4 linked regions of the Homo sapiens genome follow. The protein of the gene in region 2 purifies or fractionates together with the protein of the main gene of each other region. This does not show direct contact. Each region holds a gene or a part of one and is shown on either strand. Other genes may lie near its edges.

Region 1 (7,024 bases), on a different chromosome or scaffold from region 2:
AAATACATAAAAATGTTAACCACAGTGGTGATCTCTAGATTGCAGGAAAATAATCTTAATTTGATACTTTAAGCTTTTCTGAATTAGTAAATTGTATATAATGAAGATGTATTACTTCTGTGAGAAAAAATTATTTACAAAGCATTTAACACCAATATCCAGACAATGGGAAAATGCATATTTACATTAAAATCAGGCCTGCCTAACAAACCCAAGATCTCCTTCCTGCAACACACCGTGTACCATAAAGGTTTATGTATGAAGCCCAAGGATCAAGATAAAATATGGTTTCAGTGCAAATACTACTAAATGGGTAGAAATAACAAAGGATTTTATTCAAGTGGTCACTTACCTATTTTCCCCCTATGAGCCAGTAACTAGAACTCTGGACATAGCAACACATGGCTAATGTAGAAGCGGCCACAACAAAACTAATGCCGAAAATTAGGTGCTTATAAGAGAAAAGGCACAGCTCAGTTTAACTTTTCAGCTTTGAATCAAATACTTCTCCACATCAAATACAGGACATTTCCATCTCTTATTTCAGCAGCAGTGTCAGTTGTTATGGAATTGCTTTTGTTCTAGTTTTGCTTTTTTAAGTGTTGTTTTTGCCTTCTCCTTTCTAAGCACAATAAGAAATAGACATTAAGTTATTTTCTCTCTTGGATACTTGCAGCTGGGGTTTACCTGGCCTTTCAGGCACAGCCTTTAAGACTTCTAAAATTCACGACCAAAGGGAAAAAAAAAAAAACTCAAGCCAGAAAAAAAGCCTACTTAAAGTGTTCAATACAAATTAATAGTGCCAAGGGCAGGGACTGTCTAAACAAAGTTATGTAAACCCCTAGTCCCAAGCTCAGTGCCAGTTCCCACTCATCCAAGGACTCAACCAAGAGATAAGGCAACCCATTTGATTTAGATTCATGTGGTCAGATACTCTTTTCCATAGCAACCTCACAGTAGCATCGAGTGCCCATTTTCTCCACTCCATAAAATAGTACAATTAGATGATAAACAAAGAACAGTTTGCACAGAAAGTCAAAGATGATTTGCTTCAAACAGATAAAAATGAGAGAATGGAAACATTGAAAAGAAGATCATGTTCCCTCTAATAAAGAGATGCCTTGAGGGGATGGGGCTTAAATAAAAGACTAAACTTTTTTTTTTAAAGGAATGCCTGGACAAGCAATTTAAGGGACTCTTCAGCCTTCCAAAAAAATACAACAAATAAAGGAAAATATTATGACTTAACACACAAAATTTAAAAAGAGGGTAGGGAAAAAACTTAAAATGTAATAGCAGTTAAAAAATGACCAAAAAAACTCCACCAATAAACCTTATGTGCTTTAAACATCAGCCCTTCCTACAATTATCAATTCTACAGCAATGATTCAACTGACAGCAACAATACTGGTAGCTCACGGAAGTTCAGCATTAGAAAGGTAGATCATTATTTTTTATTTTTATAAAGATTCTTACCAGCCACCTGCTTTTTCTTAGGCTTAGCCTACATGTTTTTGGGAAACAGTGCTAATTTGTATGGCTGCTACAGGAGACTACAGGAAAAGATGGTAAAATAAAAAATGTGCCCCAAAAGGTGTCTTAAATGTAGTGAGTGTTCAAGTAAATATTTGTTGAGTAAAAATCAAGCACATTCAGAAAGATACTCACTGTTAGAAGCTATGTCAATCAAAAGAGTTTCTTCTGCTTCTGAGAGGGGAAAAAAAAGAGAGTAGGATTAGGGAAGAGAAAACCACTCACTACAACCAAAAGAATACATGCCTAACTAAATAACTGCTTCTCTCAGTCACTACTCCTAGGTCTTAGAACATATTTTTTTAAATCCCTTTTCGTTTAATATTTTTTAAAGGGATTTTTTATAGCACTGGGTTCTAAAGACTATGAGCAAATCAACTAAAATAAAAATGAACTGAAGAAGTAACCAAATGGAACTCCTCAAAGCAAATCAACGAATGAGAAATTAATAGTACAGAACATAACAACATGTTAATTCAGCGAAAGCAAGTTTAATTCCCCTTAACTGTAACATAATGATTTAACTCTGGGTCCTTTAGATACTTCTTTAGATAACAGAAGGCAAAGGAAGTGACCCTGAAAGCCCAGAGGTGAATTACTTTCTTAACTCAGATCTATTCTCTGAAAATTTCCCAGTGATCTCATCACCTCTGCCCCTGCCCCACACATGGGGGCAGAGTATACCTTCAGGTTACAACTACTACCTGTGGGCCCAAGGCCCTCCGTACCAAACAGGGTGCAAAGCAGTCTGCAAGTTTGGATTTCTCTTATCTCTCAATGGTTCTCCTGGACTTCTTCCTTTACAACAAGTGTCTAGACCCAACCTATCTCTTCCCCTCTGATTTCTCTGGATTTGACCAAGTGCACCTGCCAGACCCTCCTGGCTAATTGAACTCTGGGTACTGACTCCTTGGGATTAGCCTGGATCTACCTTGGTCAAATGGAGTAGTCTCACCTTTTTCACCTCCCTCCCAAGACTGAATTGTTTATTTGGCTCCATTACTCAGGTACAACAGAAGCAACTGGCAAGGAACTAACTCCTTTAACACTAAAAAGTAGTCTCGATATTATTATTAGGATGATTAAACAAGGGGAATTAGGGCATCAAGACATAGATATTGTATGCTTACTACTGTTCTTCATTAACTTTTAGTTCTGTAAAACCTGAGTGTTTACAGATGGTTTTCTTTTTCTTTTTTTTTTTTTTTTTTTGAGACGGAGTCTTGCTCTGTCACCCAGGCTGGAGTGCAGTGGCACGATCTCGGCTCACTGCAAGCTCCGCCTCCCAGGTTCACACCATTCTCCTGCCTCAGCCTCCCGAGTAGTTGGGACTACAGGCACCCGCCACCATGCCCGGCTAATTTTTTGTATTTTTAGTAGAGACGGGGTTTCATCGTGTTAGCCAGGATGGTCTCAATCTCCTGACCTTGTGATCTGCCCACCTTGGCCTCCCAAAGTGCTGGGATTACAGGCCTGAGCCACCGCGCCCAGCCGGTTTTCTTTTTCTTTAGAGATGGCCTCACTCTCTCACCCAGGTTAGCATGCAGTGGCACAATCACAGCTCACTGCAGCCTCGAACTGCTGGGCTCAAGCAACCCTCCTGCTTCAGCCTCCCAAGTAGCTGGGACTACATGTATCTGCCACCACGTCTGGCAAATGTTGTTTTTTTAATTTTATTTTTGTACAGATGGGGTCTCGCAATGTTGCCCAGGCTGGTCTTGAACCCCTGGGCTCAAGCAATCCTCCTGCCTCAGCTTCCCAAAATGTTGGGATTACAGGTGCAAGCCATCGCGCCTGGCCACAGTTTACAAAATAGATGCAGGGGTCAGGAAATAGAAAGGAGATGAAAATCAAAAGTAAGTCTTCCTTTAGTCATGGGGAACTACGTTACATGTGTGCACATATTTTCCCAGGTTCTAAGAAGCAGCACTACGATCTAACAATCAGCAATTGATTTCTTATTAAAAATACTAAGAGAAACAGGGTAAAAGAGATCCTAGAGGTAGAGTAAAAAGGTACAAAGCTAATAGGATATTAATTTAAAGTCATGTTCTTTGGCTCTTCCCCTCTGTGAAGGCCTACACCTTGAAAAGTGAGGTGGCCACAGCAACTTACTATGGAACGTGGCTACCTTGTTTAGTATGTCTCTCTCACATAGGGCAGGCTAAATAGCTATCACTTCATTCTTCCATACAAATATGGACACTATTCATTGAAGTTATTTTTAATTCTTAACACATGCATTCTTAAAAAGTCATATCCACTAGCTTAGTATTTTCACTTATAGGAATACATCCTGAGGAAATAAGAGATGTGCAGGTATATTTAGGTGCAGAGATGTTCATCATATTACTATTGATACTAGTGAAAAATAACCCAAATGTCAACATAGGGGAATAATTACATTATGGACCATTCATAAACTGGTATGGTATATAGCCATTAATGGCATGGAAAAGTGCTCATAATACAATAGCATGTAGAAGAGACAAAAAATTGTATAAGATGAGTATCACTCACCCTGCAATGTATGTGTAGAAAAAAGGAAAATGCTAGGTGTTTATCTCTGAAAGGATGGGAATTTAAGTGACCTATTTTCTTTACACTTTTCTGTTCTTTCCAAATGTATTACATTATGTACATGTCACTTAGTGATTAAAAAAAAAGTTCAATGTAGTTTAAGAAATAATCCATGCAAGGTAAGATTTAAGTTTTCCAAGAAAGGCCAGGCATGCTGGCTCACACCTGTAATCCCAGCACTTTTGGAGGCCGAGACAGGCAGATTGCTTGAACTCAGGAGTTTGAGACCAGCCTGGGCAACATGGCGAAACCCCGTCACTACAAAAATTACAAAAAAAATTAGCTGGGGGGTGGTGCACCTGCAGTCCCAGCTACTTGGGAGGCTGAAGTGGGAGGATCACTTGAGCCTGGGAAATGACCTTGTCTTGAAAAAACAAGTTTTCCAAGAAGCTACAATTGATACAGAATGCTTCTGCTAGATAAAGCCACTGGTCCTAGTGAAAACAGAATGCATTTGTTCTCTAGTATCAATTTCCTTTCTAGAGCAATGTGAGATGACAGAAGCAACACCTCCTACACAAACCTCCCAATTTTTAAGTTTCATTGTAGCAGATGAAACAACAGATTTTCTATGCTCCGTCCCCAAATTTGAGGGCAGGAGGCCAAATATTTCCTCCCCAGAGTCAATTTTCTTATGATTCACCAATGTCAAGGTTTGAGAATCAGCACAATTGAGTGTAAGATATTACAGTCTGGCAAGGCATGTTGCCAAATGTCTTAATTTCAAATAGCATGTGGAGAAAGTGCTGAATGTGTGTGAATCCAAGTGACCTTGGTACCTTATGAGCACTGTGTCCGTTAAGCCCAAGAATGTTATTTAAATCCACATATAGGTCAGTCAGCATAAAAAACTACCTACACAGGTAACAATCTACATACATCTCTAACCCAAGCCAAGGAAACAGGTGAGACTATAGACACACATATACAAATATATTTCGATATAACCCTTCAGCATTCTTAGAGAAAGTATCATCTCCTCAATGTTATCTTTTTATGCAAAGAGTAATACATTTCATTTTACATGCACTGACAAATTTAAATATGTATGGTATTACATAATGCAGTAATGACCGAGAAAAAACATTATAAAACTAGCTAAGGAATTAAAGCTAGTACCTTGAACACATCTGAAGTGGCTATTTATAGGAATGATATCTTGAACATGCTGTTCCTTCTCATGCAACTGGATTATTAACCTAGGAAACAGAAGAACGCATCAAAGAACAGCCACTGAAAAACTCATTTAGCAAAAAAATACTTCACTGTCCTGTTATACAAATCTAGTCTGTATTTACTAGACTTGCTGCATCTAGTTCCCTGGATCTGAGCATCATGACAGCTAGATATTGCTCTAGGCCTAAAAGGATGCTAGTGGTGATGAACATCTGATTACCCACACTGTTCTCTAGGCCATATATCCTAAAAACAGTGTACAAGCTTAAGAGCATGAATTACAGAGTATATAGCTTCAGAGTATGCATACCAGAGTGAAGAACTGACAGCTAGATGTGAAGTCCATGAGTGCAGGGACCACAGCTATCTTTACACCACGGAATTTCTAGTACCTAGCACAAAGCCTGGCACACAGGAGTTGCTCGTGTGTGTGGAATCAATGAATTAGAAAATTCATAAATTAACCTTCCAATTATATTCCCATGGCTTTTTACCAAAGAATGGATCTGTCTCTTCAAACAAGCATTCAGGTTCATGGAGGAGTAAGAGGGGGTGCTCAGCCAGCTGGATTGGTCAAAATATCAGTGACCAACAAGGTGGCAGATATCACAACTGGATTGCCTTCAAATCCCTTGTTTCTTCTCTGGTTTCCAAGTTTACGCTGGTATTTCTACATAAACATGAGTAAACCTGACTCCCCAGATGAAATCCATACTTCTAAATCCATACGTACTCCTGAAATATTAATTTTTCATTTATTATTTATCCTTAGTGGTCCAGAATCAAGGTACGACCTACTGGTAAACAGCCATTCTGAACGTCAACTAGCATTCTCAAAGTCAAGCACTCTTCAAGTATTGTTTTTAGTTTTTTGTCAGGAACACTCTGTTTCTTTCCGAGTTTCATCTCAAATATCACCTCCTCCATGAAACTGTCCTCAGTACCCCCAAGCAGAACCAGCAGCCTTATCGCCTTTGTTTGCCCCTCTAATAGAACACTTACACACTCCATTATGGTTATATTTATTTCCCCTCACTGATTTCAGCTCCTTGAAAGCAAAGACCAGATCATATTCAGTTTTGTCTGCAGCCTAATAGATGCTCAACAAATACTGGCTGAATAAATTAACTAGCTTAATTAAGCTATAAGCAGCGGTGAATTTTTCAATGAAACTGTCCAACTTCTGACATTAAAATGTCATTGTTTTGAAGGGTTTGATTTCTATTTTGTTGTCTTTTGGGGGTGCTTGTTGCTTTTGCTTTTTGCATTTTCAAATGTGTTAACTTTGAAGAGGATAACCTGGGATAGGATAAGTAATTACTTAGATAGAACTAAGGGAAATAAAAGTATTAATGCTGTTTTTCTGCTGTGATCCTTCTTGCCTAATTTGCAGGGGTTTGTACTCTAAGGTGATTACAGGAATATGGGGCAGGCCCCTTTCCATCTGGAAAGTTCATGAGTTGAGTGGAGAGTCCTATAAACCCAGATGGAAACCAGAAACCAGATAAAAGGCTGAGAAATCAAGGGTTAAGGAGGAAGAGCTTACTTTGAGGAAGATAAACACAAACCACTAAAATCTCAAAATACATAAACAAGAAATGGTGTTGAACATTAGCATTAAAGCTTCATCTGGACAGTACTGTTAAAAACTATTACAAAACAAATAAACTGAGAATTTAAGTGAATTTCACCAACATTTATTGAGTATTTACTACGTGTTACCCACTAAATTACA
Region 2 (7,608 bases):
TTTGGACGTGTTCAGGGTGGGGGAGGAGATTGACAGAGGTGGAAAATGACTTTCCATTTTTAAAGTCTGATAAAGTTAAATTAACACCATCTCTCAGGCAGACACCATGTAAAAATGAATTTTAAGACCCAAGGGAATCATGAAGCCTCTGGGCCAGTCTATGAGCTTCCCCCTAAAATTCAATTCTTGACCCAATATACAGAAATGCCCTTCTCACTGTTTTTGGTTGCTATTTAGACAGTTTGTAAGAACTGTGTAAACCCTTGATTCCTGGGAAACTAGCAGAGCTAGGAGTCAGGGTTAGGGTATCAAAACAACAGCTGAGAGAAGCCTTGCTCTCTCACTCAGTTTTCTGGAAATCCTCATCTCAATTAATATCCTAGTAACTACTTTTTTTTTTTGTCTCCTTGAGACAGGGTCTCTCTCTGTCACCCAGGATCACGCCCAGTGGTGTGATCATGACCCACGGCAGCCTTGACCTCCCAGCCTCAAGTGATCCTTCCATCTCAGCCTCCCGAGTAGTTAAGACTACAGGCCTGGCTTTTTTTTTTTTTTTTTTTTTTGGTAGAAACGAGGTCTCACTATGTTGCCTAGGCTGGTCTTGAACTCCTGGCTTCAAGCTATCCTCCTGTCTCAGCTTCCCAAAGTGTTGGGATTACAGCCATGAGTTACTGCACCCAGTCCCTACCACTGCTTTTGACCAAGGGACTCTGAATACTTGTACCACCAAGAGATCCACAACCTAGTCACACTACTAAGCACAGTTTGAAGCTATGGTTGTGGTTTTTATCCAGCCGTGGGAGGATCTTGCTTGGGTAGAAGCTGTCAAGGAGAGGGGAGGAAAGGAGTTAACCAGAAGCCAAACAGCATTAGCATGGTATCACCAGCCTTCCAACCAAGCTCTTAGTGCTTCACGAGAGAATGGAGCATTTTGTACCAGCTAATATTTTGGAAAGAACTCTGCAGGAGTGGTGTTAAGTTATGAAAGAATTTGGCCAACTCCCCTAAATTAAACCGGCTTTTATGGTTGGGCATGGTGGCTCACACCTGTAATCCTAGCACTTTGGGAGGCCAAGGCGGATCACTTGAAGTCAGGAGTTCGAGACCAGCCTAGCCAACATGGCGAAACCCAATCTCTACTAAAAATACAAAAATTAGCCGGGTGTGGTGGCAGACGCCTGTAATCCCAGCTACTAGTAGGGAGGCTGAGGCAAGAGAATTGCTTGAACCCGGGAGGCAGAGGTTGCAGTGAGCCGATATTGTGCCACTGCACTCCAACCTGGGCAACAGAGTGACTCTGTCTTAAAACAAAACACCAACAACAAAAACTAGCTCTTACAACACACAGGACATATGTAGCCACTAAGCATCAGCAGGGCCTTACCAGCAATCTGTACCACCTGGTTTCTCCAACACACTGTCTCCACAGACATAAGTCTTCCAGAGTCAAGGATAATTTATAATCCAATGGAGCAGCTGATTTAGTCCAGTAGCTCACACTAGAGTGACTAAAGTTCAGGCCTGCACAAACAAACAGCACCAACACCTACCCCACCCCCTTTTCTTAGTGCTGGGACATCAAAGTAAACACACAGGGGTTACTGAATGCAAACATCCTTGTACACATAAAAGTAGTGATGCTGGAAATGGAGAGGGTGAAGGGAGAAGGCTGGGCCAGCAAACCCCAAAACGACCAAACTGCATTTTTTAGAAACTAAATGTTACTTCTCCCTAACTCCTATTTCATCCAACCTTCACCTGTCACAACTGAGGTCTGGGTTTAGGATTACAGCATCCGATACAGACTATATTTCAAAAGAGAGAGAAGCGGGGCCGGGTGCAGTGGCTCACGCCTGTAATCCCAGCACTTTGGGAGGCCGAGGTGGGCGGATCACGAGGTCAGGAATTCGAAACCAGCCAGCCTGGTCAACATGGTGAAACCTCGTCTCTACTAAAAATACAAAAATTAGCCGGGTGTGGTGGCGCGTGCCTGTAATCCTAGCTACTGGGGAGGCTGAGGCAGGAGAATCGCTTAAACCCACGAGGCGTTAAGTTGCAGTGAGCCAAGATCACGCAACAGCACTCCAGCCTGGGCGACAGAGCGAGACTTCGTCTCAAAAAAAAAGAAAAAAAAGAGAGAAGCAAGTCAGCTGTTCCTTTAATACACACAAACTCAACTCCCTTGACCAGAGCCCCAACATCTGATCATGGGTTCCAAGCCTAGGTTTCCCCTCCTAAAAAGGGGAAGGAAGCCACAGCCCAGAAAAGCAGTGGGAGACAGACCACAGGCCACAGTGATGATCAGAGGGGTCAGCCACTTCTCAGCCATTATTTAGTCTGTAAAATGGAAATGGGAATAACAACAGTACCTATCCTCAGGTGCCGGCGAGGGGTACTAGAGAGAATTACGTCCAAAAAGAGCAGGGCCGGGCATTAGGCATTTGGGGAGAGCAAGCTATTATTGTCTTTACTACTACTGTTCCACCGTCCCAGAAGAGACCCTGCTGAGACCCGAGACGAGCAACTGACAGGCAAATCGGGCCAGTTGGAGCGGGTATCTAGTGCCTGGAGCCCAGCGAGCCGAGAGGACGAAAGAGGTGAGGAGCTGCGGGCGCAGGGGCGTGAGAGACTGAGAACAGGTGGGAAGAGCCCAGGAGAAAGCAAGGATCAGCGAATGGGGTCCTGACAGAGGACCCCAAACTCACCCAGCGTGAATTCCCATTGCTCGTTCCCCAGAGAGCGTTCGGGCACTACCTCCAGGTCCAGCATTGGTTCGGCTCGCCTGGCCCGGGCGGCCTCCCTGCGGCAGCGCAGAAGGGACCCGAGCTAAGGAGACAAAGCAGCGGCTGACAGGCCGCCCCCGCCGGCCCGCCACAGCCCCGCTTTCCACCTCCTCCCCGGCGGCAGCGGCAGCAGCACCGGCCCAACACCACACCTCACCTCACTTCACCTCACCTGCAGCAGCCGCGGCAGCGGGGGCAACGACGGCGGCGGGCGCGACTGCAGTAAAAGTGGCGTGCCGGGCCGTAAAGCGCGGGGAGGGCCGGGCGAAGGCGGGAGTGCCAGCGCGAGGGAGGAGCCTGGGGCGGAGCCGCGCACGCGCAAACTGCGGGTCCCGCCGCCGTCTCTGCGGAGGCTGAGTCGGGCAGGGCTGTAACGTTGGGAACTGTTCGGGCTCTAGGAGCAAGGAGCCCAGTACTTCGTGAGCCCCTACATCTGTGCACCACAGCACACACACTTCACATATCTACATAAAGAAGGGTTCACCACACAACACACACGTCACACAGCTGCACAAGACCCGTCTGCTGTCTACACACACGTCCCACTCACGTTCACTGGTAGCAGAAGGCAAGTACAGAGGGCACGCTGAGGCCCAGCAGGAGGGAGGACGCGGAGTCCCTAAGCCTCACGGCCCCCACCGTCTCCGTTGGGGCCGGAGGTGACGCTGGCCGCAGCAGCTTTTAGTTGTTCAGGAATGACGGCCCCACCCAGTCGCCCCTGGGGCAAGGGTCGAACCGTAAGCGAGTGAGGACTGTGGGCGTTAGGGGTCGGAATTGGTTCGGGGAGAGGACTGGGTAGAAGAGGAAGGGGCCAGGCCAGGCCTCCCTGCTGACCACATCCAAATGTGCGCAGTCCCCCGGGACCAGGATCCGAAGCCGCCGGCAGCAGCGTGGACCAAAGCTGTGGGGGTCTTGATCAACCCCTTGGCGCTTTCTGTGCCACAGTTTTCCTAATCTGCAAGGGACAGGAAGGTTCCTCTAGCAGGTTCAGCCTGAGGTTTTGGCCCGTGCCCCGGGACACCCTGAAACTAAAGGACAGCCGAGGCCTATGCTGATGCCAAGCCTTCACGGAGGCAGTCTCTGGGTTCTCACAACCAACCTGAGATGCGAGATTATACCGACTTTACATAGGCGAATACATGAGGCCCAGAGATGTTAAAGACCCAAGGCTCCTTGGTTCTAGGCGCAGAACCCAAGTCCTTTCCATTACATTGCCCCTGGAAGAAGGTTTTCAGTAGGGGAGAGAGTGGCATACTAAATTCTCAAACTGGCTTGATACTAGCGTTTCTTTGGAGGCTCTATCAAAATTTGAAGTCGCTGTTTGATTAAAATGAACTACATGGAGAAGGTTGTCCACTGCAGCATTGTATGCCAAAACAACAGAACTGGGTCACTGAGATGTCCAGTAGGGAAGTGGCTAAATAAACCGTGATATAGATAGATAGATAGATAGATGATAGATAGATAGATAGATAGATAGATAGATAGATAGATAGATAGAGATATGTTTTTAAAGGTGAATGCTGAGAGCAGTGCTCACAGCGGTAATACCAGCACTTTGGGAGGATGAGGTGGGAGGATCGGTTGAGCCCGGGAGTTGAGACCAGCCTGGGCAACATAGCAAGACCCAGTCTCTATTAAAAAAAAAAATTAGCTGGTGTCATGGCAGTAGGTTGGGCCAGGAGTCCTAGCTACTCAAGAGGCTGAGAGGTGGGAGGATAGCTTGAGGATAGCTGCAGTGAGCTGTGATTATTGAGCCCCGGGGCTCCAGCCTGGATGACAGAGCAAGATCCTGTCTCTAAATAAATAAATAAATAATAAAAAGTGAAGTAGGTCTCTATGTTGATGTGGAAGGAACTCCAAGAGAAAAAAGCCAGGTGCAGAAGTATGCATACCATGACCACCCACCACCCCCCTCCCCCGGCCTTTTTTTCTGTAAAAACAAAAATAAAAGAAACAGTGGCTGTACCAAAAAGAAAGAACATTTCTGGAAAAATAAAACATTGTCAATCATACCTAATAGAGTGGCAGAGGACAGGAATCAGGGGGTCATTATTCCTTATCATGACAAGCATTAAAGATATGTTTAGAAAAGCCTAGTTGGGCAGCTGGGCTAGATAGCTTGGGAAGGAAATCTGGGGAAAAATCTTAAGATTGGTGAGGAGCAATCTTAGTCAATTAAAAGTGTCTGGCTGGGCGCGGTGGCTCACGCCTGTAATCCCAGCACTTTGGGAGGCCGAGGCAGACAGATCACCTGAGGTCAGGAGTTTGAAACCACCCTGGCCAACATGGTGAAAACCCGTCTCTACTAAAAATAGAAAAAATAGCTAGGTGTGGTGGTGCATGCCTGCAGTCCCAGCTACTTGGGAGGCTGAGGCACGAGAATCACTTGAATCCAGGAGGTAGAGGTTGCAGTGAGCCAATTATCACCCCACTGCATGCCAGCCTGGGCAACAGAGCAAGACTCTCTCAAAACTTGGAGGGGACTTATTTCTGGAGGAGAAAGATGGGTGGGGCCTAAATTGGGGTGGGATAAGCCCAGTGGGGTTGTGGGATAAGCCCAGTGGGGTTGTACCAGAGGCAAGACAAAGAAGAAACCACATCATTCTGGATAACAAAGTGAAAAGGATTTCTAATTTGGGTAACCCCCAAACAGAAAGAACAAAGTTGTCGGGGAGCGCCCTAAGAAATTCCCTGTTGGAATAGTAGGCAGATTTCTGTGAACAATGTTAGTCAACAACAAAAGTTTATCTGGCCAGGTGTGGTAACTCATGCCTATAATCTCAGCACTTTGGGAGGCTGAAGTGGGAGGATTGCTTGAGGCCAGGAGCTTGAGACCAGCCTGGGCAATATAGCAAGACCCCGTACACACACACACACACACACACACACACACACACACACACACACACGCCAGATGTGGTGGCACATGCAGGTAGTCCCAGCTACCCAGGAGGCTCAGGTGGGAAGACCACTTAAGCCTGGGAGTTTTGTTGTTGTTGTTGTTGTTGCTTTTTGTTTTTGTTTTTGAGACGGAGTCTCGCACTCTCGCCCAGGCTGGGGTGCAGTGGCGCCGTGGCGCCATCTTGGCTCACTGCAAGCTCCGCCTCTCGGATTCACGCCATTCTCCTGCCTCAGCCTCTCGAGTAGCTGGGACTACAGGGGCCCGCCACCACGCCCGGCTAATTTTTTGTATTTTTAGTAGAGACGGGGCTTCACAGTGTTAGCCAGGATGGTCTTGATCTCCTGACCTTGTGATCTGCCCGCCTCGGCCTCCCAAAGTGTTGGGATTACAGGCGTGAGCCACCGCGCCCGGCCGAGCTTGGGAGTTTGAGGCTGCAGTGAGCTATGTACTGCACTCCAGTACAGCCTAGGCAACAAAAGAATGAGACTGTATCTCTAAAAAAATAAACAGAAGTTTATCTTTGCTCATTTAATGTTGATTCACCCAGGTTTTTATCCAAGGTGGGAATAACAGCTTTGGGATGGTGATATTAGGAGGCCTTGGCCCAGAGCCCAATACACACACACACAATAGAAGCAGAAGGTGCCTGGCAGGAGCAGGCCAACTCAGGAGAATGTCAGCTACAGCCATTCCCCCAAACTGAGGGTAGGGATGTTCAGAAATATGGAATTGGCTAATGAAAAGCATATTCAGGGAGGGCAAGTAGTCATGGTAGCAGTCAAAGCCAGACATGCAGGGACAGCTTCAGGTCAGAACATGGTGATTAAGCTCAGGGACTCAAAATTTGAATCCCAGTTCTGCCACTTAATAGCTTTGTGCCTTGACAAGTTAATTAGCCTCTCCATGCCTTAGTTTCTTCTGTAAAATCTGTAACAATCTCACAGATTTGTTAGGAGGTCTGTACTTGTGTGTCTGGCTTACAGGTAATTGCTTTGTGTATAACTAAAATTTTAAAACATCTAATAGTAACAGAATTGATGGAATCCACTGGCAGGATTTACAGATTGCATGTGGGAGATGAGAGAGACTGGGAGTCAAGAATAACGACATAGTTTTCCCAGCTTGGGTAGCTGGAAGGACGGTGATTGGAGGAACTGACATTGGCGTTTGGAAGGATGTCAATCCTTCTGGTAAAACTGTCACGTGATAACTTGGAAGGGAAGAAATGTAACAAGCTTGAAACATTACTTGAAGAACTTGGAAAACAATCTTAGTACCATGGTTATTTATTAATTGCATTTGCCAAGTTATTTTTTTTTCTTTTTTTTTTTTGAGACGGAGTCTCACTCTGTTGCCCAGGCTGGAGTGCAGTGGTGAGATCTCGGCTCACTGCAACCTCCGCCTCCCAGGTTCAAGCGATTCTCCTGCTTCAGCCTCCCCAGTAGCTAGGATTACAGGCACGTGCCACCATGCCCAGCTAATTTTTGTATTTTTAGTAGAGACGAGGTTTCACCATGTTGGCCAGGCTGGTCTTGAACTCCTGTCTTTAGGTGATCCACCTGCCTCAGCCTCCTAAAGTGCTGGGATTACAGGTGTGAGCCACCGCGCCCAGTTAGATTTTTTTTTTTAAAGCCAGTTTGAAAGCAGGAATGACAGGTAATGTGTACAGCAAATGAGGGATGGGGCTAAAAGTCATGGAAAATGGTGGAGCAGGGAACCCATCCTAATAGGCCTTACAAAGAACACTCCCCTCTGTTAGGGCAGAGGGCCCTCAAATGGTTTCCAGTGTCATTTCATAATTGTTACTGACCGGTGACTTCATTCTTCCCCTTTCTGAAGGCAAGTGCTTCCTGCAATTTTTCTGTCCCTGTCCCACCACTGTGTACTGGGTGCGTAGATCCTGGTCTCCACACACAATTT
Region 3 (7,024 bases), on a different chromosome or scaffold from region 2:
TGGGTAGACATGTGACTGCACGGAACAGCAGCAGCAGGGAGGGCAGAAAGCATAGGCAGAGCTCACACAAGCTGGAAACTGTGTGTTCTTAAAAATGTACTCAGTTATTTTCTCTGGTGTGGAGAGCAGTAAATTATGTGGTTTGGAAGCTACTACTACACTACTATTTCCTGAAAGAGCTTTCTAGCACGGCCTGTCACAGACACAAATTTACAAGTATGCCTCAGTCTCTCTCTGAGAACACAGACGAATACTGAGCTTTATTAGTTGGAAAAATATGCTAAGATTCAACCAGACAAGCGTGTTTTAAAAATTCTATTATTATGGTTAAACTTTTATAAACAAATGTTAGAGTTAATTTAAAAACATTTATATTTGGACATGCAACCATACTCAAGTGCCTTGTAACATATTAAATAGGCCGTTTTAGATCATTATTAATGTTCCAGACAGAAAGCTGCTCATGCTCCCAACAAGTGACAGGTTAGTGTGACCCATCACATACCGTCCATCTGCATCTTCTTTGGCTGCATAGAGGGGGAAGACATAGAAGAAGTCACCCGGAAGTTTGCAGGGAGAGTCTCTGCTGACCCAGCAGCTAAGCCACGAATGTCCTTTGGTCTAAACTTTTTTCTCCATGAAGGTGCTCTCCTAAAGCTTTTATCATCATCCTGGTAAATTAAGGAACAAAAAACAAGATTCATTTAAAAAATAAAGGTCAGAGATGTAAAGTTACATGTCCTTTAAAATGACTGCTGATCTCGAGAATGTATTCTTGTCCACATGTATTTAATCCCTTCTTGATGACCACACAATATATTGCCCAACCTGGAACTTCAGCGTGAAACGGGGCATGGTGATGGTCCGGCTGGGCCTCAGCTGGCGAAATGAGGTCGGTGCTGGGCCATGAGGATGTGCTCCTTCTCCACAGCATCATGTTCTACTTCTTACACCTTGCAGGAATCACTTTCTTGCAACGTAATACGTTTTTATTTATCTTAAAAATAGTTTATTTTTCATTTTTATTTATGTTTTTACAGACAGAGTCTAGATCTGTTGCCCGAGCTGGAATGCAGTGGTGTGATTATAGCTCACTGTAACCTCAAACTCCTGGGCTCAAGCCATCCTCCCACCGCAGCCTCCTAAGTAGCTGGAACTACAGGTGTGCCCCTACCACACGCAGCTCTACAAACAATTTTTAACTAGAAACAATTTTATCTTATGCCAGGATATAGCAACAAGTGCTTCATCTTTAGAGGTGGTCTTCTATTCTCTCTGTCAAACTCAACTTTTCTTAAGGTCCAATTAAGAGACTCCTAATCGTGTGGAACAAATGAGTCATGGTTTTAAGGGGAAATTAACATTTTGTGTTTTTAATATACTTCTGAAACATGCCACCCCACCCATGCACAGGAGTATGGGGGTACACTCTGGACTGGGGTAGGATAACTACTGGTCCCCAAAACCCAACTTACAGACTCTGTTCCTAAGCTGCAACCAATGTTTTATGATGTGAAAACCATTTTTGAGGGATGTCAAAAATTAAATAGCAAAAATAAAAACAAAACTACCTTCTTGAAGGTATTACTTTTGTGGGTTTTTTTTTTGCGGGGAGGGGGTTTCTTTTTGAGATGGAGTTTCTCTCTGTCGCCCAGGCTGGAGGGCAGTGGTGCGATCTCAGCTCACTGCAACCTCCACCTCCCAGGTTTAAGCGATTCTCCAGCCTCAGCCTCCCAAGTAGCTGCGATTATAGGCACCTACCACAACGCCCGGCTAATTTTTGTGTTTTTTAGTAGAGATGGGGTTTCACCATGTTGGCCGGGCTGGTCTTAAACTCCTGACCTCTGGTGATCCGCCCGCCTCAGCCTCCGAAAGTGCTGGGATTACAGGTGCGAGCCGCCGTGCCCGGCCCAGGTATTAGTTTTTAAAGGCTCATTTGTGAATAAATGTATAAGAGCAAAGCCTGACTTCTAACATCCAGAGAGACTGCCTAGCTACATGATGTCCCAAGTATAATAATAATAACAGCTTACATTTCACACACATTTAAACATTTACACACATTTCAGACATTTAAAGAACATTAGGCCAAAAACTTACTTCATCAAACCTTCTATCAGTCCCCATGACCAAAAGGTTGTTAAATTCTCTTTCCAAGACAGCACGAGCCTGAAATAACCAAAGAAAAACAAATAAAACTTTCATCAAATCTAATTTGAAGGGTGTTAGCATCGTAATTGTTTTTTAAACCAAGACTTAAACTCCCTCACTGCTGGCTGGGTCTGGTGGCTCACGCCTGTAATTCCAACACTTTCGGACGCCAAGGCGGACAGACCACCTGAGGTCAGGAGTTCAAGACCAGCCTGGGCAACATGGTAAAACCCCGTCTCTACTAAAAATACAAAAATTAGGGCCTGGGTGTGGTGGCTCATGCCTGTAATCCCAGTACTTTGGGAGGCCGAGACAGGCAGATCACTTGAGATCAGGAGTTTGAGACCAGCTTGGCCAACATGGTGAAATCCCATCTATACTAAAAATACAAAAATAAGCCGGGCACGGTGGCGTGTGCCGGTAATCTCAGCTACTTGGGAGGATGAGGCAGGAAAATCACTTGAACCTGGGAGACAGAGGGTGCAGTGAGCCAAGATTGCACCATTGCACTCCAGCCTGGGCAACAAGAGCGAAACTCCATCTCAAAACAAACAAAAAAACAACTCCCTCACTGCTATGACTACATTGAACCATAATAATATTTTAAATCAGGGCATCTAATGTGGAGTCAATGGATGGGCTTTTGCAGAAAGGGATCCATGATCCTTGGAGTCATATTAACAAGGGTGTGTTGTGTGGGTTGGTCAGGGGTATTGGCCAAAGATATTCAATTTTTTTTTTTTTTTTTCCTTTTTCTTTGGGATGGGGGTCTCACTCTGTCACTCAGGCTGGAGTGCAGTGGCGCAATCAGAGCTCATCACAACCTCCACTTCCCGGGCCAAGCAATCTCCCTGCCTTGGCCTCCCAAGTAGCTGGGACTACAGGCATGTGCCACCACACCTGGCTAATTTTTTTGTATTTTTTTGTAGAGACAGAGCTTCACCATGATGGCCAGGCTGGTCTCGAACTCCTGGACTCAAGCAATCTGCCTACCTGGGCCTCCCAAAGTGTTGGGATTGTGGGCATGAGCCACCTTGCCTGGCATATTCAATGTTCTGTAGAGGAATAAAAGTTCCCTGTTTTTCAAATGAGCCCATGAGTCAAAAAGAATGGCATAAGGCAATTACCCATAAAAACAAAATTAATAAAATCTTCATGTGGCACACCTAAAAACACTTCTCTTTCCATGTAAGAACTAAATATATGTCACTCTTCTGATCAGGCACATGGGCTGGAATGAAAGATCGTCCTTATCTGGTTTATTGCAGGACTCTCATGCTTCCAACAGAAAAGGGAAAGCCAATAGACCAAAAAAAAAAAAAAAAACCAAAAACTAGTTGTCTGAAGTTTTTTTTTTTTTTTTTTTTTAAAGTTTCTTTCTATTCGAATAACTAGCTGTCTATAATCAGGGTGCCAACTGAACAATGAGTGCAGACACAGACAGGTTTGGCGTCACCTGTGTGTTCTGCGTCGGGATCTGTAACAGCAGTGCCAGTGCACTGAAGTCGAAGGTTTCATCTAAGGCCAGAAGTGCTCCGTGAACACCACTCTCTATAAGATTGTTTGCATATTCTTTAAGGCCAATTGACAGGATCCAGCGAATCACTCGATCATTGCTCCAAACAAGCACGTCTGCAAAAGAATAAAGACAATTATAAAAGTGGCTTCAGAAAGCCATCTTTATCACATGTACCCTGTAATGCAGGAGAAAGATTCCTACCATGGTTCCTAATCCTTCGGCTCCTGAGAAAAGTGCTGGGAGACACTGCTAAATAGACAACCATTTGCTGCACTGAGACAATGGTGTCCTGGCCCTGCTCCACTCTCAGGGAGACTCTCCCATTAGAACTCATCCTTCCAGTGAGCACGAGAGGAATGAAGTTATTATTTCTAGAGAAAAGAAGATGATGAGGATCCAGGGATCAGAAGCCAGAGGACTGCAAGAACTTGAATACCTAACATGTATAAACATGCTTCACACACAGACTGGAGAGTCTTCTGAAATACTTCATCACGGATGGAGCTGGCTCCATAATAATATGAACACTTTGCTCAATTCAACAGAAACCTCTCATTTCTAATCTCGAAGTCTTTGTCTCATTTTAAAATGAGAGAAACTTAACAATATCATCCAGCACATTAGAGACTTTGCAGAAAATCTTTTTTTTTCCTCTCTTTTTCTTGACAATGTCCTGCTCTGTCACCCAGGCTGGATACAGCCTGGTACCATCATAGCTCACTGCAGCCTCAACCTCCTGGGCTCAAGTGATTTTTCCCACCTCAGCCTCCTGAGGAGCTGGAACTACAGGCGTGTGTCACGAAGCTCAGCTAATTTTTTTGTACTGACAGGGTCTCACTATGTTCCCCAGGCTGGTCTTGAACTCATGGGCTCAGACAATACTCCTGCCTTGGCCTCCCAAAGTGCTGAGATTACAGGCATGAGCTACCATGCCCAGCCACAATATCTTATGCAAATTAACAAATTATTCAATTTGCTCTATTAGATCTAAAAATAGCCACTCTAAAAATATATGCAGATGATCACCAATCACTTCCAAAGACACTTCCAAAGATCTTTGTCTATTGGAAAAAGATGTAAAATAGATACAGAAAACAAAACAGATGGACATATTTCATTGCCAATGCCCTTTTCTGGATAAAAGTCCATACATATACACACACTGTATAAATGTCGACTTACGACTTTTCTCCTGATTCACATTAACTCAATCACAAGTAGACTTCCCTTCAACTGGGCCATCTCCCAACCATATTTTTATCCTTAGTTTCTTTCTTAGTATAAAGTGGGGATGAAAACAGCACTTAGACTGACAGGGCTAAGGTAAAGATGAAAGAAAGCAACCCCTGAGTACTTAGAACACCACCTGGCACCTACTCACTGTTAGTAAGACTGGCCTCTTCTTATCATTATTGTTATTGGTGACTTCCTTGCATTCCAGGAATTCTGGGAGTCATTACTCTGAGCTTAATGTTTACTGTCTAATTTTAAAAGCAAATTCTGACTGGGTGTGGTGGCTCACACCTGTAATCCCAACACTTTGGAAGGCCAAGGTGGGAGGATCCCCTGAGCCCAAAAGTTCGAGATCAGCCTAGGCAACATAGCGAGACCCTGTCTCTACAAAAAAAAAAAAAATTCCAGGCATGGTGGAGCACACCTGTACTCCCAGGAGCTACTAGGGAGGCTAAGGCAGGAAGAGCACTTGAGCCCAGGAGTTCAAGGCTGTAGTGAGCTGTGATCACACCACTGCACTCCAGCCTAGCCTGGGCTACAGAGCAAGACCCTGTCTCAAAATAAATTAAATAAATAAATAAACAAACAAACAAATAAATTTGAGTACGAGTGAGGGACTCCCCAACGGAGAAGAGAACCAACTCCACGTCTTCTGGATGAATGTCTCACATCCTCTAACGCCTCCCTGGCCTGTGTTTTCCAACTGAAATGCCTTTTCCTTACCCTAAGCAGCTCCTCCTCCTTCTTCAAGGACCAGCTGAAATGCAGACGCTGCCTCTCCTTCCCCTCCGGGAGCAGAACTGCACGGTGCTCTCCTGTTCTCCTGAACCCCTTGGATAAGCCCCCAGTCATATTTCTCACACTTGAATCATCAAGTGAGCTTTGCTCTGTTGTTATCTAACAGTGTGGAACAGCATTTCGGAGTGAAGGAGTACACAGGGCATGACCAAAGGAAAACTCTCAACTCACAGGAAACGACTAGCCGGAGACATTTAACCTCCAGACTGATGTGTGAGAACACAGGGAACAGTTCTCTAGCTGTGGAAGAGAATCTCAAAAGCACTCAACTTCATCCAGCCCTCCTCTGCAATGACACTAGACTAGTTAGTTTTCTCCACTTAAATTTAGCCTTTCTTGATTTTTTGAAAAATAGGAAGTCACTGAGGCTCCAAACACACCAGCAAGTAGGAGTAAACCGAATCAATTAAATGTCATGTACTAACCTTTTATTTCACTCTGACTTTCTTCTCTTTTTCTTTCCAGTTCTTTCCGGTCATAATTTAACCTTCTCAGGCACATAATTCCACACTGGAAACTGTTTCTATTTGGAAGAAAAGAGAGATGATTTAGAGATGGTAACAGTGAAAAATCTTAGCCAATTATTAAGAACTATCTCCATTAAGTTACCTGTGAAAACTGTCGACCATTTTCAGCTGCCCTCGAAGGTCTTTCTTGGTCAAGTGGTCCAGCATCCTGGCGTCTACAAGGCACTCCATGAAGTAGCTGCGGTACTGGGGGAGGCCCAGGCTGGGGAGCCACTCGTTGCCGATCCACTCGTGGTTCATGTCCCCATAGGCGAGTGTCTGCTTTTCATAAATGGAAAAGGTCAGTTACAGAGGAAGTCTCAAAAGTAGTTTATATCATTTTTAAAATGAATTTTTAATCTATTACCTATATTCTCAAAGGCTAAACTAATGATAATTTTATAATTGCAAAATAATTTGATCTCTTCTCACCTTTTAAATTTGTTAGTAAAATTTTTATACAACAGGAATAGTAACATGAAAAATATATGATTCGTTGTGATAAATTTAACTTTTAAATCAAACTACAAAAAAACTGTAACTGGCTATAAATTTCCTCTCTGAGATAGTTTTTAGTATAATAATGTGACAAAGATTGATCACGACTCATGAACAAGTTTGAAGGCTCAATTCAACACTGCTCACTAAAATTATCTCTGGTTGGTTTACATTTTAACACTTTGTTTTCCTAAAGAAAAAATCCATTTCAAAATCAGTAAAAGTCAGTTAAAATATAGTTTTAGAGAAGAGATAAAGCAACAACCAACAGGACTAAATGGGGAAACAGGCAAATTCACAATTATAGTTGAAAAAATTC
Region 4 (7,024 bases), on a different chromosome or scaffold from region 2:
AAAATAAAAAATAAATGATCTAAATGCTACATCTTGGGGCCGGGCGTGGTGGCTCATGCCTGTAATCCCAGCACTTTGGGAGGCCCAGGCAGGCAAATCACCTGAGGTCAGGAGTTCGAGACCAGCCTGGCCAATATCCTGTCTCTACTAAAAACACAAAAAATTAGCCGGGTGTGGTGGCATGCGCCTGTAGTCCCAAGTACTCGGGAGGCTGAGGCAGGAGAACCGCTTGAACCCAGGAGGCAGAGGTTGCAGTGACTCGAGATTGCGCCACTGCACTCCAGCCTGGGCAACTGAGAACTGGGCAACTGAGAAAGACTCCGTCTCAAAAAAAAAAAGAGGAAAAAAAAAAAAAGCTACATCCTGGGGACGGGCACAGTGACTCATGCCTGTAATCCCAGCATTTTGGGAGACCCAGCAGGCGAATTACCTGAGGTCAGAAATTTGAGACCAGCCTGGCCAACACAGTGAAGCCCAGCCTCCACTAAAATTACAAAAATTAGTCTGGCGTGGCGGCAGGTACCTGTAATCCCAGCTACTCAGGAGGCTGAGGCAGGAGAATCGCTTGAATCCAGGAGGTGGAGGTTGCAGTGAGCTGAGACCATGCCACTGCACTCCAGCCTGGGTGACAGGGCAAGACTCCGTCTCAAAAATAAATAAATAAAAGCTACATCTTAGAGTATAAGAGTATTCTATATGATATGTTATCAACTTTATGTGGTAATGATAGCTTATAGTTCTATTTCTGGGATACTCTGTCTTACATTTAAGAACTCACTCTGACATGCCAGGGAGCTACCCTTTAGGCAAGTGGATTTCTGCAAATACGAATGGTTGCATGTGGCCAGGTGCGGGGGGCTCACACATGCAATCCCAATACTTTGGGAGGCTGAGGCAGGCAGACTGCTTGAGCCTGGGAATTCGAGACCAGCCTGGGCAACATAGCTAGACCCTGTCTCTACAAAAAGTAAATGTTTTTTAAAAAATGGTAGCATATATGGAAATAACTGAAAATATTAATCTTTCAAGGTAACATATGGAAATAACTGAAAATATTAACCTTTCAAAAGTTAGCAACTTTATAAATCTTGAGTACCTTTTCTGCTTATTCTCTTCAATTAGCTGAGCTCTGTGATGTTGCCATGTATGTGACGGGAAACACTAAAAACATGGTTCCCAAACTCTCTCTCTCTACACGATGTCTTCCCCATGCCCCAACTCTACTAAGCTCACAGGAACTGAAAAGATCTGCCTAACTGTACTCCCTCCCATCTCCTGACCTTCTCTTACCCCCCTCTTTCTAAACTCCAGTAAGAAGAGGTAAGGATCTACGTGGCTTTTAAAGTTTAACTTTTTAATAGAGAAATTATCATAGTATAAACCATACCAAAAATAACTTTCCAGAGGCAGAAACATACCTACGAAGCTGCAGATCATTACGCTGATATGAATGACTGCTTGAAAGAACAATGACTCTGGCACAGCCACTGCTTTTCACCCAGGAAAGCAGTTTTTCACAGAATGGCTTTGATTTATACTTTGCACACCATTGAGAGAATAAAAAGAAAATCTAAAAGTTAGTCTTAGAGCATACAAACATTCTATATACTATTTCATCAACTTTATGTGATAATGATATATAATTTATATATACTGAAATTATTTTCAGATCCACTTACTGTGCTTAAACCGAAAGTGAATGATAAAGAGCAATGAATTATCTAATGTATCTTTATAATTAAGAAATCAATGGCCATGCATGGTGGCTCACGCCTGTAGTCCCAGCACTTTGGGAGGCAGGCGGATCACCTGAGGTCAAGAGTTCAAGACCAGCCTGGCCAACATGGTAAAACCCCATCTCTACTAAAAATAAAAAAATCAGCGGGGCATGGTGGCAGGCACCTATAATCCCAGCTACTCAGGAGGCTGAGACAGGAGAATCACTTGAACCCAGGAGGTGAAGGCTGCAGTGAACCGAGATTGTGCCATTGCACTCCAGCCGGGGGAACCGAGTGAAACTTTCTCAAAAAAAAAAAAAAAAGAAAAAAGAAAAAGAAAAGAAATCAATGAATCATGAGGAATCTAGATTTCAAAAAAAATCTATTGTGATGGACAAAGGACAATTTCCCAGTTCTCTACTTGAGTAATCTATTGTTACCTAATAACCAATACATGGTCATCTGTGAAGGGTTCTTGCCAGAAATTTGTGACCCGAATCTGGTCACATGGAAACAATCAGATGAATGGAGAATGCTCCACATCCAGCCCCGGTTCCTCAAAGGAGTCAATATTGTAAAGAAAGAAAGAGGGGCAGGCCAGTTTTACTCTGAAGGATAACAACTAAAAAGATGTAACAGCCAAATACAACCTGTGAACCATCAATGGATCCAGAATTGAAGGATACTTTCGGAACAGCTGTGGAAATTTGAGTATGTTGGATGATACTCCTGAATAAATTCATTAAATGCTGGTTTTCTTGGGTGTGGTAATGGTGTCCTGTTCTTGAAAGATGTGTGCGGAAGTATGTAGGGGTGACCATTGCTAGCCTACTTCTGGATTGTTTCGAAGAAGGAAACTGTGTACGCGCATAGCGAGAGATCAAGTAGGTGTGGCAAGACATTCACAGCTGGTAAATCTGGAATGTGGGTTATAAAATTTCAGGGGGAGCCCGCTTTATGAAAATTTTTCAAAGACTGCTCATAAAATAACTACTCAATAAAATTTAAAATGCAGGTAAGAGAAATGCAGGCTAACTTTTAAAATAAGAAGGTAGTCTAGTGCAGCAGTTAAGAGAGGCAGGCTCTGGGACAGGCAAGGTGGCTCACTCCTGTAATCCCAACACTTTGGGAGGCCGTGGTGGGCAGACTACTTGAGCCCAGGAGTTAAAGCCCAGCCTAGGCAATATAGTGAGACCCTGTTACTACAAAAAAAAAAAAAATTATTACACATGGTAGTGCACGTCTGTAGCCCCAGGTACTCAGGAGGCTGAGGTGGGAGGATCATTTGAGCCTCGGAGGTCAGGGCTGTAGTGAGCCATAGTTGTGCCACTGCACTCCAGCCTGGGTGGAGTGACACCCTGTCTCAAAAAAAAAAAAAAAAAAAAAAGTAAAAGAAAAAAGGCAAGCTCTGGAGCCAGGCTGCCTGGGTTAGAGTGCTGGTCCTGCCTCCCTAAGATCATGTGTCAGGCAATTGCTTAATCTTTCTGTACTTCAGTGTTTCCTTTGAAAAATAAGGATAATATTAGTATCTGTCTTATAGGTTTGTCATGAGGATTAAGTAATAAATATAAGGTACTTAGAACAGTATCAGCACAAAGAATCAATGCTCAATAAATGTTTGCTATTTTGAAATTAGTCTTGTGGCCAGGCACGGTGGCTCACGCCTGTAATCCCAGCACTTTGGGAGGCTGAGGCGGGCAGATCACAAGGTCAGGAGATCGAGACCATCCTGGCTAACACGGTGAAACCCCGTCTCTACTAAAAATACAAAAAAATTAGCCGGGCGTGATGGTGGGCGCCTGTAGTCCCAGCTACTCGGGAGGCTGAGGCAGGAGAGTGGCGTGAACCCAGGAGGTGGAGCTTGCAGTGAGCCGAGATCATGCCACTGCGGTCCAGCCTGCGCAACAGGGCGAGACTCCGTCTCAAAAAAAAAAAAAAAAAAAAATTCACTCTTTACTTCCAGCTGCCAAAAATTTATATTATACGTTAAATAATTTTTCAACTTACACTGATTAGAAAGAGAACAAAAAGCCATGTGGCACAATGTAAAAATGTTACCAACTCTAACTGCAAAACTTTGGGTATATAATGTTAACTAAAGAAAGCAGTGATTCTAGTATAAGAATTAAAAATAATCTTAGCAGCACTATTCATGATAGTCTCAAACTGGAAATAATCAAATGTAGCATCAAAAGTACCATGGAAAAATTATGGCTTATGTATACAACTTAACACCACAGAGAAATGAGAACGAATGAACTATGGCTACTTCCAACAACATGGGTGAACCCCGCAAAGGGAATGTTAAGAAAGGAAGCTAGATGCTGTAAGTATATACCACAGAATTCCACCAATAGAATACTGACTAGGACGCATTATGGGGTCCTCTGGAATGCTGACAATGCTCTATGTCTTGATCTGAAAGCTGGTTTCACAGAGGGTTTACTGCATGAAAATTCACCAAGCTGTATATTTATGATTTGTGCACTTTTCTCATGTACGTCATACTTCGATAAAAAGTTAAAATAATGGCTGAGCACAGTGGCTCACGCCTGTAATCCCAGCACTTTGGGAGGCTGTGGTGGGCAGATCACCTAAGGTCAGGAGTGTGAGACCAGCCTAGCCAACATGGCAAAACCCCAACTCTACTAAAAGTACAAAAAGTAGCCAGGCGTGGTGGCGGGCACCTGTAATCCCAGTTACTCAGGAGGCTGAGACAAGAGAATTGCTTGAACCCAGGAGACGGAGGTTGCAGTGACCTGAGATCACGCCACTGCACTCCAGCCTGGGCGACAAGAGCAAGACTCCATCTCAAAAAGAAAAGTTAAAATAAAAAGTACTATGCAGTTAACCATGTCACTAAAATCCTGTATTTCTAACCTCCTGAAAAGATGATACCTCAGGTCATTCCAAAAAATCCCTTAGCAAATATTTACTGAGAGCTTCTCTATGTGCATGACACTATCTTATGAGCTGGGGATATAAAAGTAAATGACACTTCATCATTCCTTTCAGAAGCTTACTTTCGGCTGGGTGTGGTGGCTCACACCTGTAATCCCACTACTTTGGGAGGTTGAGGCGGGCAGATCACCTGAGGTCAAGAGTTTGAGACCAGCCTGGCCAACATGGTGAAACCCCATCTCTACTAAAAATACAAAAATTAGCCAGGTGTGGTGGCGGGCACCTGTAATCCCAGCTACTCAGGAGGCTGAGGCAGGAGAATCGCTTGAACCCAGCAGGCAGAGGTTGCAGTGAGCTGAGATTGCACCACTGAACTCCAGCCTGGGTGACAAGAGTAAAACTCTGCCTCAAAAAAAAAGAGGGCCGGGCACAGTGGCTCATGCCTGTAATCCCAGCACTTTGGGAGGCTGAGGTGGGTGGAGTGGGTGGATCACCTGAGGTCAGGAGTTTGAGACCAGCCTGGCCAACATGGTGAAACCCCATCTTTACTAAAAATACAAAACTTAGCCGGGCACAATGGCACACGTTCGTAATCCAGCTGCTTGCGAGGCTGAGGCAGGAGAATCACTTGAACCCAGGAGGCGGAGGTTGCAGTGAGCTGAGATCACGCCATTGCACTTTGGGGAAGCTGAAGCATGAACTGCTTGAGCTCAGGAGTTCAAGACCAGCCTGGGCAACATGGCGAAACCCCACCTCTACAAAAAAATACAAAAATTAGCCGGGTGTGGTGGTGCATGCCTGTAATCCCAGCTACTCGGGAGGGTGAGGTTGGAGAATGGCTTGAGCCTGGGAGGCAGAGGTTGCAGTGAGCCAAGATCACGCCACTGCATTCCAGCCTGGGTGACAGAGCAAGAGAGACCCTGTTTCAAGGAAAAAAAAAAAAAAAAGGAAGAAAGGATTGTTTAGGAGGGCCTTTCTCATGAAGAAACATTTAAGAAAACAGTAAAGGAGGCAAACCATTGGAGTCTCTAAGAAAATGAATTTCGGCAGAGAAGCTAGTGGAAAGACTGAGACAGGATGAGCTTAATGTCTAACAACACAGGGAAGCCAGTGTGGCTGCAGGTTAGGCTCTGCAAAGCAGCAGTCTGGCAGAGCTCCTGTGAGCATGACTCTTGTTATGCTGGCTTTTTGCATATGGGGCTCCTGCGAACTTGGAACGTGAGGAACTGAATTTTAAATTTATGAATTAAACTGTAAATAGTTACATGTAGCTAGTGGCTACTGTATTAGCACAGATATACAGCCTCATAGGCCACAGTAAGGGCTGTGAATTTGAAACCATCCTCAAAGAGTTAAAGAAACCAATGACTAACAAATTCTTGAGTTTGGACTGGGCGTGGCTTACACCTGTAATCCCAGCATTTGAAAGGCCAAGGTGGGTGGATCACTTGAGGGCAGGAGTTGGAGACCAGCCTGGCCAACATGGCAAAACCCCGTCTCTACTAAAAATACAAAAATTAGCCAGTGTGGTGGCGTGTCCCTGTAATCCCAGAGGCTGAGGCAGGAGGATCACTTGAACCCAGGACGGCAGAGGCTGCAGTGAGTTGAGATCACATCAGTGCACTTAAGCCTGGGCATCAGAGGAGACTGTCTCAAAAAAAAAAAAAGAAAGAAATTATTGAGTTTGCAGGGTAGCAGATAAGAAACTACTTGGTAAAATACTGAAACTTCCTCCCCTTATGGGATAAAAGAACTGGCTGAAATTGGTTGGAACCAATATGGCCAAGTAGAGTCTGCAGAGAACAAGCTTCCTGGTGTCGCAAGCTGACTCTCCATCACGTTTCATACTCATTCCCCTGAATTGGCACATGAGCCCTATGAGTTAGCATGAGGAGATAACTGTGCATGCCCAAGGACCTTCCAGATGTCCCCTTTCCTTCCATCGCTCACCTACTGATCTCAGAATCCACCCTCTGAACCTTTTCTAATAAAAACACTGCCTTGAAGTCAGCACAGGGAGGCAGATTTGAGGTCGACTCCTGTCTCCTTGGGAGTCAATTTGCAATATAAAGCCTTTCTTGTCTCAAAAACCTGGTGTCACAGTGCATCAGGAAGCGAGCCCCTTTTCCTGGATCACAATTTTGAGTGAGAGGAGAAGCCACTGGAGGGTTTCAAAGAGAGTAGTGATGTGGTGTACGTTTAGAGGATCATCAGTGCTGCTGTTTGTGGGAGGCAGATCAGCAAGTTAGTCAGGGGCATGAAGATGACACTGGTTTGCACTCAATGACAGCAGTGGAGGAGGAAAGAAGTCGGATTCAGAATATTTTATGACATATACATAATTTGATATATACATAGTTTATATGTAGATGCCACCAGCTGAAAGGTAATACAAATGGAATAAA

The links.
Region 1: the proteins of PHAF1 (region 2) and OCRL purify together in Homo sapiens (affinity purification with mass spectrometry; 3 studies listed by BioGRID and IntAct, with this or other methods). This does not show direct contact.
Region 3: the proteins of PHAF1 (region 2) and PPFIA1 purify together in Homo sapiens (affinity purification with mass spectrometry; 4 studies listed by BioGRID and IntAct, with this or other methods). This does not show direct contact.
Region 4: the proteins of PHAF1 (region 2) and PSMG2 purify together in Homo sapiens (affinity purification with mass spectrometry; 4 studies listed by BioGRID and IntAct, with this or other methods). This does not show direct contact.

The regions. Positions count from the first base shown.
Region 1 is NC_000023.11:129,543,246-129,550,269, reverse strand, and holds part of OCRL (inositol polyphosphate 5-phosphatase OCRL), read right to left. Parts: intron 5,313-7,024; coding exon 5,233-5,312; intron 1,708-5,232; coding exon 1,669-1,707; intron 1-1,668. UniProt on the Homo sapiens protein: Catalyzes the hydrolysis of the 5-position phosphate of phosphatidylinositol 4,5-bisphosphate (PtdIns(4,5)P2) and phosphatidylinositol-3,4,5-bisphosphate (PtdIns(3,4,5)P3), with the greatest catalytic activity towards PtdIns(4,5)P2.
Region 2 is NC_000016.10:67,105,337-67,112,944, reverse strand, and holds the start of PHAF1 (phagosome assembly factor 1), read right to left. Parts: upstream 3,005-7,608; 5' UTR 2,770-3,004; coding exon 2,706-2,769; intron 1,507-2,705; exon of another isoform or gene 1,434-1,506; coding exon of another isoform or gene 1,385-1,433; intron 1-1,384. UniProt on the Homo sapiens protein: Plays a regulatory role in autophagic activity. In complex with BCAS3, associates with the autophagosome formation site during both non-selective and selective autophagy.
Region 3 is NC_000011.10:70,371,677-70,378,700, reverse strand, and holds part of PPFIA1 (liprin-alpha-1), read right to left. Parts: intron 6,509-7,024; exon of another isoform or gene 6,490-6,508; coding exon of another isoform or gene 6,487-6,489; coding exon 6,311-6,486; exon of another isoform or gene 6,225-6,310; coding exon 6,127-6,224; intron 3,784-6,126; coding exon 3,608-3,783; intron 2,170-3,607; coding exon 2,101-2,169; intron 672-2,100; coding exon 506-671; coding exon of another isoform or gene 498-505; exon of another isoform or gene 230-497; intron 1-229. UniProt on the Homo sapiens protein: May regulate the disassembly of focal adhesions. May localize receptor-like tyrosine phosphatases type 2A at specific sites on the plasma membrane, possibly regulating their interaction with the extracellular environment and their association with substrates.
Region 4 is NC_000018.10:12,713,030-12,720,053, reverse strand, and holds part of PSMG2 (proteasome assembly chaperone 2), read right to left. Parts: intron 1,538-7,024; coding exon 1,419-1,537; intron 1-1,418. UniProt on the Homo sapiens protein: Chaperone protein which promotes assembly of the 20S proteasome as part of a heterodimer with PSMG1.